2 separate regions of the Homo sapiens genome follow, and region 1 is linked to region 2. The links come from fine-mapping of genetic effects on gene expression. A gene starts in region 2. The other region holds a variant in brackets. All regions are shown on one strand. Distances are from middle to middle.

What was found. PIP is the estimated chance that this variant, and not a neighbour inherited with it, causes the effect.
Region 1: its variant is the best candidate, but not a certain one, in a credible set for the expression of PNMA8B in fibroblasts (GTEx, PIP 0.73).

The regions. Positions count from the first base shown.
Region 1 is chr19:46,420,848-46,426,218 of GRCh38, reverse strand. It overlaps PNMA8C (PNMA family member 8C), which reads left to right. Exons shown (of 1, transcript NM_001386793.1): 1 at 1-1,522. Among named protein-coding and RNA genes, the nearest start is that of PNMA8C, 5.4 kb to the left of the region's middle. RefSeq lists enhancers at 1-112, 2,710-2,759. The variant T/AATTT (reference allele first, on the strand shown) is at 3,066.
Region 2 is chr19:46,493,572-46,498,893 of GRCh38, reverse strand. It overlaps PNMA8B (PNMA family member 8B), which reads left to right and starts at 3,027. Exons shown (of 1, transcript NM_020709.3): 1 at 3,027-5,322. The coding sequence starts at 3,429.

The sequences.
Region 1 (5,371 bases), 73 kb after region 2:
GGAGTGAACTCCACTCTCTAAAGAAGAGGCAAGGCTTCTGGGCAATGGTCCAAAAGGAGGTAAATCATTAAGAGGCCATTTTCAAGAGTTACCAATGAACGACGTTAACACTGAGGTGAAGAAGAATTTTAAAAATCAGGTAAAATCCAAATACATGTGAGTAGGCAGATCTTTTGCTCAGAGACAACGGACCTGTCAATTTGCAAACTTGTTAGTTCAAGGATCTGCAAAGGTTTGACTGAATCTCTTTTCAAAAATGTAACTTACACACAACACAAAGACTCAGCCTACCAAATTGTAATGTCAGAGACTCCTAACGTCTTTTTTTTTTGAGACAGAGTCTCGCTCTGTCACCAGGCTGGAGTGCAGAGGTGCAATCTCAGCTCACTGCAACCTCTGACTCCCTGGTCCAAGCGATTCTCCTGCCTCAGCCTCCCTAGTAGCTAGGATTACAGGCATGAACCACCACGTCCAGCTAAATTTTGTATTTTTACTAGAGAAAGGGTTTCACCATGTTGGCCAGGATGGTCTCAATCTCCCGCCTTGGTCTCCCAAAGTGCTGGGATTGCAGGTGTAAGCCACTGCGCCCAGCTTCTCTGTTGATTCTTTTTTTTTTTTTTTTTTTTTTTTTGAGGTGGAGTCTCCTTCTGTAGCCCAGGCTGGAGTGCAGTGGCACGATCTTGGCTCACTGCAACCTCTGCTTCCTGGGTTCAAGTGATTCTCCTGCCTCAGCCTCCTGAGTATCTGGGACTACAGGTGCGCACCACCACGCCCAGCTAATTTTTGTATTTTTAGTAGAGACAGGGTTTCACCGTATTAGCCAGGATGGTCTCAATCTCCTGACCTTGTGATCCGCCCACTTCGGCCTCCCAAAGTGTTGGGATTACAGGCGTGAGCCACCACGCCCGGCCTGATTTTTCTATTCCTTGTAAATGCCCAGCCTGGGCATACCCACTCGCAGAATATTGTACTACTGTGTTCGTTATTGCATCCCAGAGTCTGAGCTTGAATAAATGCTACGAAAGCCTCCAGCGTGTTTGTTGCATGCTGCTCTCCCATCAAGGCATAATCGTTGTATAATAAGGGATAGTGTGACATTTCTTATCATATTGCAGCATGAAGACTGTATTTTGTGCTTATTGTGGATTTCAGGGGTATAACATTTATATTTGTGATACACAACATGCGTGGTTGTTCAATGTTGCCCATGAAATCAAAATCCTACCACTTCTCTTTCAAGATTTTCTGGACCAAAGTGTATCCTGGGACTCCAATGCAAGTTGTCATGCAAAACTGTCACCATTTGAAGCTACTTAGCTGAGTGAAAACATCACTGGTAGGGCAAATCCCAAGCAAAAATTCACAAGTAAATTGAATGTGCCAGCTGTTGGAGGGCTGCATCTGGCTTCTGTAAACCCCTGATTTCAAAAGGGGGTTCAGCTAAAACTCTTCATTGTTCTTTGTGATTGAGATGCTCTTTTGTACAAATATGAACTCATAAAATAAATGTATGCTAATGAAATCATAGTCTGCCCCTTGACATATGGGGGGAAATCCATGTAAGATTTAATTTGGAAAAATGATGTGGCTGCTAAAACAAGTACTGAAAACTGCTTCCATGGCCTGAAGTCTTCCAGGACTGCATTTATTTTTATTTTTATGTACTTATTTATTTTTGAGACAGAGTCTCTCTCTGTTGCCCATGCTGGAGTGCAGTGGCGTGATCTTGACTCACTGCAAGCTCCGCCTCCCGGGTTCACACTATTCTCCTGCCTCAGCCTCCCAAGTAGCTGGGACTACAGGCACCTGCCACCACACCTGGCTAATTTTTTTGTATTTTTAGTAGAGTCGGGGTTTCACCGTGTTAGCCAGGATAGTCTCGATCTCCTGACCTCGTAATCTGCCCGCCTCTGCCTCCCAAAGTGCTGGGATTACAGGTGTGAGCCACCGCGCCCGGCGGAAACACAGCTTTCTTTTATCCTACGGACTTCTCAGGATGTCAGGTCATTTTCCAGTGGCTGGTGTGAAAGGTGAAACAATTTAACTGAAACAAAAACAGTAACAGCTATCTTGTGTTCCAGGCACTATGCCACATTCCTTCATATCATTAACCCATCATATCCTGCCAACCCTGTGAGTTATGGCCCTATAGGTCCACAATCCCTTATAAAAACCCTCAGCCAGGTGTGGTTTCAGGGGTATATGTGGTTCAGAGTTTTGGATTTTAGAAAAATGATACAGTGACTATACCTTATATTGTAGAATTTACTTCCCAGGGGGATGCGGGAAGCCCTTATAATCCCATCAATACTTCTGTAGTGGGCTAGGTGCAGTGGGTCACGCCTGTAATCCCAGTACTTTGGGAGGCCAAGGTGGGAGAATTGCTTGAGGCCAGGAGTTCAAAACCAGCCTGGTCAACACAGCAAGACCCCTATCTCTACAAAAACTAAAAAAAAAAAAAAAAAAATTAGGCACGGTGGCATGCACCTGTAGTCCCAGCTACTCTGGAGGCTGAGGTGGAAGGATCGCTTGAGGCCAGCAGATCAAGGCTGCAGTGAACTGTGATTGCACCACTGCACTCCAGCCTGGATGACAGAGTGATACCCCCCTACATCTCAAAAAAAAAAAAAAGACCAGATAAGAGATTAGATTATCAAACTGTACTATTATTAAGATCATCATCTCATTCTATGGATGAAGAAAGTAAAGCTCAGAAAGGCTAAGTAACTTGTCTAAGGCTACAGAGCAAAGCACAACAGGAATTGAAAACAGGCCTCTGACCACATTCTGTGCTCCTCACACTGATTCGGGTCTCTCTCAGTCTGGGAGGCCCCAGCTGACATCGGAGTCATAGAGCATGATTTCTCTGGTAAACGGCTGGGCAGAAGAAATTCTTCAGGATTCCTTGAGAAACAAGCCAGAGGTGGGTGGCACTCTGAGGGCCTGTTTGAAACTGCAGTACACGCTCTGGTTCTAAGTGGGGGCTTAGAGCAGAGAATAATCTTCGTGCATATTGAATAATCATATCTACCAGGCACTATTCTAAGCATTTTACACAAACAATT[T/AATTT]AATCCTCATAAGACTCAACACCATGAGACTGATACAATCTCATTCTCCAGATTTGGAAACTGAGGCACAGAGCCACACGATTTGTAAACAGAGCCAGGATGTGAACCGGAACTGAGTCTACAAACAGCTAGACCACACTGCTTTTTTTTTTTTTTTTTTTTTTGAGATGGAGTCTCGCTCTGTGGCCCAGGCTGGAGTGTTGTGGTGCGATCTTGGCTCACTGCAACCTCCGCCTCCTAGGTTCAAGTGATTCTCCTGCCTCAGCCTCCCAAGTAGCTGGGACTAAAGGCGCGTGCCACTACGCCCGGCTAATTTTTTGTATTTTTAGTAGAGTCAGGGTGTCACCATGTTAGCCAGGATGGTCTCGATCTCCTGACCTTGTGATCTGCCCGCCTTGGCCTCCCAAAGTGCTGGGATTACAGGCATGAGCCACCATGCCTGGCCCACTCTGCCTTTTCTAATAACTGTGAGCATTTACCATCCCTGGGTTCTGTGCCAATACCTATCATGGTCTCGTGAACTGCTCACAACCTCTCCATGAGGTTAAGTCTCATTACAACTGCCATTTTGCAGAGAAGGAAGCCAAGGCTCAGAGAGGTGAAGGAACTGACCCAAGATCACACAGCCACAGGGTGATAGAGCCAGAATTTGAACCCAGGCAGCCTAGCTCCAGAGCCCACGTGCTCCACCACATGGAGGGCTGGCACAGCACAAAGAGGAATGAGGTCTTGGTGGATCCAGGGAGACAGCACCCTGAGGCCTCCTCCCAACAGTCCTTGGTGAGAAACAGGGATTCTGAAGGCAGTCTCTGAGTCTCTGAGTGACCGACACATAACTTGTGATTCCGGCCAGGTGCAGTGGTTCACGCCTGTAATCCCAGCACTTTTGGAGGCTGAGGCAGGTGGATCACTTGAGGCTAGGAGTTTGAGACCAGCCTGGCCAACATGGTGAAACCCCGTCTCAACTAAAAATACAAAAATTAGCCGGGCGTGGTGTTGCGCACCTGTAATCCCAGCTACTCGGGAGGCTGAGGTGGGAGAATAGCATAAAGCTGGGAGGCAGAGGTTCCAGTGAGCCAAGATCATGCTACTGCACTCCAGCCTGGGCGACAGAGTAAGACTCCGTCTCAAAAAGGAAAAAAACATATATATACGTATATCCCAGCTGCATGTGCCCTCTGGTGCTGTGGGACCCCTGGCTGATGGGGCAGGAAGTTGGGGGGAACAGGGAAGGGGTGGGCATATGTGCCTAGGTGGGCACAGAGCACACAGCTCTTCACCTGCTGTTCCCTCTGACTTTCAGTCGCCCTTCAGGCTTTCTTTTTTTTTTTTTCTTTTTTATTTTTTGAGACGGAGTCTCACTCTGTTACCCAGGCTGGAGTGCAGTGGCGCGATCTCAGCTCACTGCAAGCTCCGCCTCCAGGGTTCACGCCATTCTCCTGCCTCAGTCTCCCTAGTAGCTGGGACTACAGGCGCCCGCCACCACGCCCAGCTAATTTTTTTTGTATTTTTAGTAGAGACGGGGTTTCACTGTGTTAGTCAGGATGGTCTCGATCTCCTGACCTCGTGATCCGCCTGTCTCGGCCTCCCAAAGTGCTGGGATTACAGGCGTGAGCCACGGCGCCCGGCAGCAGCTTTATTTCTAAGAACCAAAAACTAGAAACAACTCGATGGCCGACGACAGGTGAATGAATAAACAAACTGCAATGTATTCATGCAACAGAATATGACCTAGCAACAAAAAAGAATGTACTGGCCGGGCGCGGTCGCCCTCCCAGCACCTTGGGAGGCTGAGGCGGGCAGATCATGAGGTCAAGAGATCGAGACCATCCTGGCCAACATGGTGAAACCCTGTCTCTACTAAAAAGACAAAAACTAGCTGGGCGTGGTGGCGGGTGCCTGTAGTCCCAGCTACTCGGGAGGCTGAGGCAGAAGAATTGCTTGAACCGGGGAGGCGGAGGTTGTGGTGAGCCAAGATTGTGCCACAGCACTCCTCCTGTCACAGTTTGGTGACAGAGTAAGACTCCGTCTCAAAAAAAAAAAAAAAAAAAAGGAATGAACCTCAGATGCGTACAGCAACATCGGTGAACCTCAGAAGCGTTATGCGGAGTCAAAGAAGTCAGACCAAAAAGGACACACACTATATACTTCCTTTTACATAAAACTAAAAAAACACTATAGGGACAGAAATCAGAGCAGTGGTTGGGCACAGTGGCTCACGCCTGTATTCCCAGCACTTTGGGAGGCCACAGTGGGTGGATCACTTGAGGTCAGGAGTTTGAGACCAGCCTGGCCAACATGGTGAA
Region 2 (5,322 bases):
CTCTCACTTCAGCCTTGATCTCCTGGGCTGAAGCAATCCTCCTACCTCAGCTTCCTGAGTATCAGGGACTACAGATGTGTGTCACTAAGCCTGGCTAACTTTTGTATTTTTTGTAGAGACGAGGTTTTGCCATGTTGGCCAGGCCGGTCTCAAACTCCTGGGCTCAAGTGATCTGCCTGCCTCGGCCTCCCAAAGTGCTGGGATTACAGGCGTGAGCCACTGCGCCTGGCCAAAATCTATTCTTAAAATTCATTTTTCTTCCCTCTTTTCTATTTATTGAAGGTGGCCCCCTAGGAAATTTTGTATTTTTTGTAGAGATAGGTTTTCACCATGTTGCCCGGGCTGGTCTCGAACTCCTAACCTCAAGTGATCTGCCCGCCTCAGCCTCTGAAAGTGCTGGGATTACAGGATTACATGGTGAGTCACCATATTTCTTCTTTTTTTAGATCAATAGATGCAGAAAAAGCAGCTCGTTTTTTGTTTTGTTTTGGTTTGGTTTGGTTTGGTTTGGTTTGGTTTTTTTGAGACAGCGTCTTGCTCTGTCTCCCAGGCTGGAGTGCAGTGGCGCAATCTCGGCTCAATGCAACAACCTCTGCCTCCCAGGTTCATGTGATTCTCCTGCCTCAGCCTCCAAGTAGCTGGGATTACAGGCGTGCGCTACCATGCCCAGCCTAGATTGGAGATTCAAATGTCAAAAATGACACTTTGTAATCCCAGCACTTTGGGAGGCTGAGGTGGGTGGACCACCTGAGGTCAGTGTTGGCTGGCTGCAACTAGGAGTTTTAACATTGCACGTGCGGTTCGAATTTGGGGCTGGCATTCTATTCCTGCTGGACAACGCTGCTCTGGAGAAAAGAGTCACATCACATCCATCTGTGGATCAGGAAGATCAGAGGAGGAAAAAGTGGGGGAAAATAGGAGTGAGTAAGCGGTTTGCCCAGTTGCTGTGGTAACCTTGCAGTTAAACTCTCCTTAAACATAAAAAAATCCAAACACAAAAGTAAGGGGTTGGGCCTGGTGGCAAAAACAAAAAACTCGAGGTGTTTTGGTTTCCTATTTATTTGTTTATTAACAGATGCTTTGGGCTGAGCACGGTGGCTCGTGCCTGTAATCCCAGCACTTTGGGAGGCCGACGCCGGCAGATCACCCGAGGTCAGGAGTTCCAGACCAGCCTGGCCAACATGGTGAAAATCCATCTACTAAAAATACAAAACTAGGCCGGGCACGGTGGCTCACACCTGTAATCCCAGCACTTTGGGAGGCCGAGGCGGGCGGATCACGAGGTTGGGAGTTTGAGACAAGGTTGCCCAACATAGTGAAACCCCGTCTCTACTAAAAATACAAAAAATTAGCTGGGCGTGGTGGCGGGCACCTGTAATCTCAGCTACTTGGGAGGCTGAGGCTGGAGAATGGTTTGAAGCCGGGAGGCGGAGGTTGCAGTGAACCAAGATCACGCCACTGCCCTCCAGCCTGAGTGACAGTGCGAGACTCTCTCTCAAACAAACAAACAAACAAAAAACTAGTCAGGCATGGTGGTGCATGCCTGTAGTCCCAGTTACTCGGGAGGCTGAGGCAGGAGAATGGCTTTAACCCGGGTGGTGGAGGTTGCAGTGAGCCGAGATTGCTCCATTGCACTCCAGCCTGGGCGACAGAGCAAGACTCCATCTCAAAAACAAACCAACAAAACAGATGCTTTTATAATGGTAAGTTCTCAACAAATACTTCTCTTAGCCATCTTTCATGGAGCACCAGCTGTGGGCCAGCTGCTCTTCTAAATGCTTTCCTGGATTATTCCCTTTAATCCTCATGAGAACCCTTTGAGGCCAGGCATGGTGGCTCACCATGTAATCCTGTAATCCCAGCACTTTCAGAGGCTGAGGCGGGCAGATCACTTGAGGTTAGGAGTTTGAGACCAGCCTGGGTAACATGGTAAAAACCCATCTCTACAAAAAATACAAAAACTTGCCAGACGTGATGGTGTATGCCTATAATCCCAGCTACTTGGGAGGCCTGTCATCCTTGCTACTCAGGAGGCTGAGGCAGGAGAACCGCTTGAACATGGGAGGCGGAAGTTGCAGTGAACCAAGATTGTGCCATTGCACTCCAGCCTGAGTGACAGAGCAAGACTCCATCTCCAAAACAAACAACAACAAAAAAACAAAACCCTTTGAGGTAGGGATGATGGTTGAGATATAAACCTACCAGCTGGTCTACAGAGCCAGATTCATATAGAGTAGGGGACAGCCTCATGGCCAACAAGGGACAGAGAAGCAAATGCATGTTTACAGTAGCTATGACTGACGTTCACACGCCCCAGTCTGCTGTCCCAGTCAAGGGAAATGCTTTCTTGCAAAATTCATGCCTGGTCTCACAATCATACATATGCTCAAAGCGTGTGCAAAACCACAGGATTTATTGTGCATGCATAGTTCAGAATACAGGAACGTGTATGGGAGTGAGGGCCGGTCCCATCGAGTGGGGCCTGTACCCTGCAAGTGAGGCCCATATACCCTGAATGGTGTCTTGCTCACAGGTGGTGCCTGGGCCCCCCTATTTGATACTGAGACCCATATACTGTGAATGAGGCCAGTATCCCGAGTAAGTCCTGGTCCTACGCTGCAAGGCCAGTGCCCTTTGATTTAGGCCTATATAATCCTGAATTCCACCTGGCCCCTGGAAGGGGGAATTGTAACCCCCAGTGATGCCGGTACCCTCTGGAAGGAGGCCTCTATCCCCTGAATGAGGTCGGGTATCCTTGAGTGATTTCTGGCCCTCTGTGGTTTCGGCCTTGTTTTTTGCTGGTTAATGAAAGTGGTGCTTCCAGGCCCCAAGTCCTTGTCATCGGGACCTTTAAGAAAAGCGTCTCAGGCCACAGCGACGCAGACCCCAGCTCAAGGCTGCACCGTTGCCATGGAGACGGTTGGGCGGGGGACAGGGGAGGGTGTGCGGCTCCCTCTGCGCAGGCGCACGCGCGAGCAGCCGCGTCGCAGCGGAACTGCTGAGATTCAGGCCCAGGGTGCGCGCTCAGACGCGGCGCGAGCGCCAGGCAAGCTGCGGCTGCTACCTCCCACGCCTCTCCAGGTGCACTCGGCGCCGCCCCCCTGCACCTGGCTGCGGTGCCGAGTCACTCAGGCCTGTGTCAGGGAGAGAGGGAGGGAGCTGTCCTGGAAAGCAGACACGTAAGCCCCCCGCGGATCCTCAGACAGCTCTGGAGAGGGGTCCCGGGGGAAGGTCACTGCGTCCAGCCGGCCAGCAGGCAGCTAGAGCCCCCGAGCCCCGAGCCCCACTCCAGCCTTGCCACATTCACCGGAACCGGGACTCTAAGCCCTGCAAGTGGCTTTCTAGGGTTGCATTGACACCGTGCGCTGCAGCCCACCCCTATCTCGGGCTCCCTGCTGCCCCAAGATCAGCGCCAAGGGGGCTGCACCATGGCCATGAGCCTTTTGCAGGACTGGTGCCGGAGCCTGGACGTGGACGCGCACAGGGCCCTGCTGGTCACCGGCATCCCGGAGGGCCTGGAGCAGGCAGACGTCGAAGCCGTCCTGCAGCCGACCCTCCTGCCCCTGGGCACGTTCAGGTTGCGACACATGAAGGCTTTGATGAACGAGAAGGCCCAGGCCGCCCTGGTGGAGTTTGTGGAGGACGTCAATCACGCTGCCATTCCCAGGGAGATCCCAGGCAAGGATGGGGTCTGGAGGGTTCTGTGGAAGGACCGTGCGCAGGACACGAGGGTCCTGAGGCAGATGAGACGCCTGCTGCTGGATGACGGGCCCACGCAGGCCGCGGAGGCTGGGACCCCCGGGGAGGCACCCACCCCTCCCGCTTCGGAGACGCAGGCCCAGGATTCTGGGGAGGTAACAGGGCAGGCTGGCTCGCTTCTTGGGGCAGCCAGGAACCCAAGGAGGGGCCGTCGGGGTCGCAGAAACAGAACCAGACGCAACAGGTTGACCCAGAAGGGCAAGAAGAGAAGCCGAGGAGGACGGCCGTCTGCTCCCGCGAGGAGTGAGGCCGAGGACTCTTCCGACGAGAGCCTGGGCATCGTGATCGAGGAGATCGACCAGGGCGACCTGAGCGGAGAAGAGGACCAGAGCGCGCTGTACGCCACGCTGCAGGCCGCTGCCAGGGAGCTGGTTAGGCAGTGGGCGCCCTGCAACTCCGAGGGGGAAGAAGACGGTCCCCGCGAGTTCTTGGCTCTGGTCACCGTCACCGACAAATCGAAGAAAGAAGAGGCAGAGAAGGAGCCAGCTGGGGCCGAATCCATCCGCTTGAACACCAAAGAAGACAAAAATGGTGTCCCCGACTTAGTGGCCCTGCTGGCTGTGAGAGACACCCCGGACGAGGAGCCGGTGGACAGCGACACTTCGGAGAGCGACTCGCAGGAAAGTGGGGACCAAGAAACAGAGGAGTTGGATAATCCTGAGTTCGTGGCCATTGTGGCCTATACCGACCCGTCGGACCCCTGGGCCCGGGAGGAGATGTTGAAAATCGCTTCTGTTATCGAGTCGCTGGGCTGGAGCGACGAGAAAGACAAGCGAGACCCCCTCCGACAGGTCTTGTCCGTCATGTCCAAGGACACTAACGGGACCCGCGTGAAGGTGGAAGAGGCGGGCCGCGAGGTGGACGCCGTGGTCCTGCGCAAGGCCGGGGATGACGGGGACCTCCGGGAGTGCATTTCCACCTTGGCGCAGCCGGATCTCCCTCCCCAGGCGAAGAAGGCTGGGCGTGGCCTCTTCGGGGGCTGGAGCGAGCACCGTGAGGACGAAGGGGGTCTTCTGGAGCTGGTGGCGCTCCTGGCTGCCCAGGACATGGCGGAGGTGATGAAGGAGGAAAAAGAAAACGCCTGGGAAGGCGGGAAGTACAAATACCCCAAAGGCAAACTGGGGGAGGTATTGGCGCTCCTGGCCGCCCGGGAGAACATGGGGTCCAACGAGGGGTCGGAGGAGGCTTCGGACGAACAGTCCGAGGAGGAGTCGGAGGACACCGAGAGCGAGGCGTCGGAGCCGGAGGACAGGGCATCCAGGAAGCCCCGGGCCAAGAGGGCGCGCACGGCCCCCAGGGGCCTGACTCCGGCCGGCGCGCCTCCCACCGCTTCCGGGGCCCGCAAAACCCGCGCGGGCGGCCGAGGCCGAGGCCGGGGCGTCACTCCCGAGAAGAAAGCCGGGAGCCGGGGCTCGGCCCAGGACGACGCCGCAGGAAGCAGGAAGAAGAAGGGGAGCGCGGGCGCCGGGGCCCATGCCAGGGCAGGCGAGGCCAAGGGCCAGGCGCCCACTGGATCCAAGGCCGCGCGCGGGAAGAAGGCCCGTCGGGGCCGGAGGCTGCCCC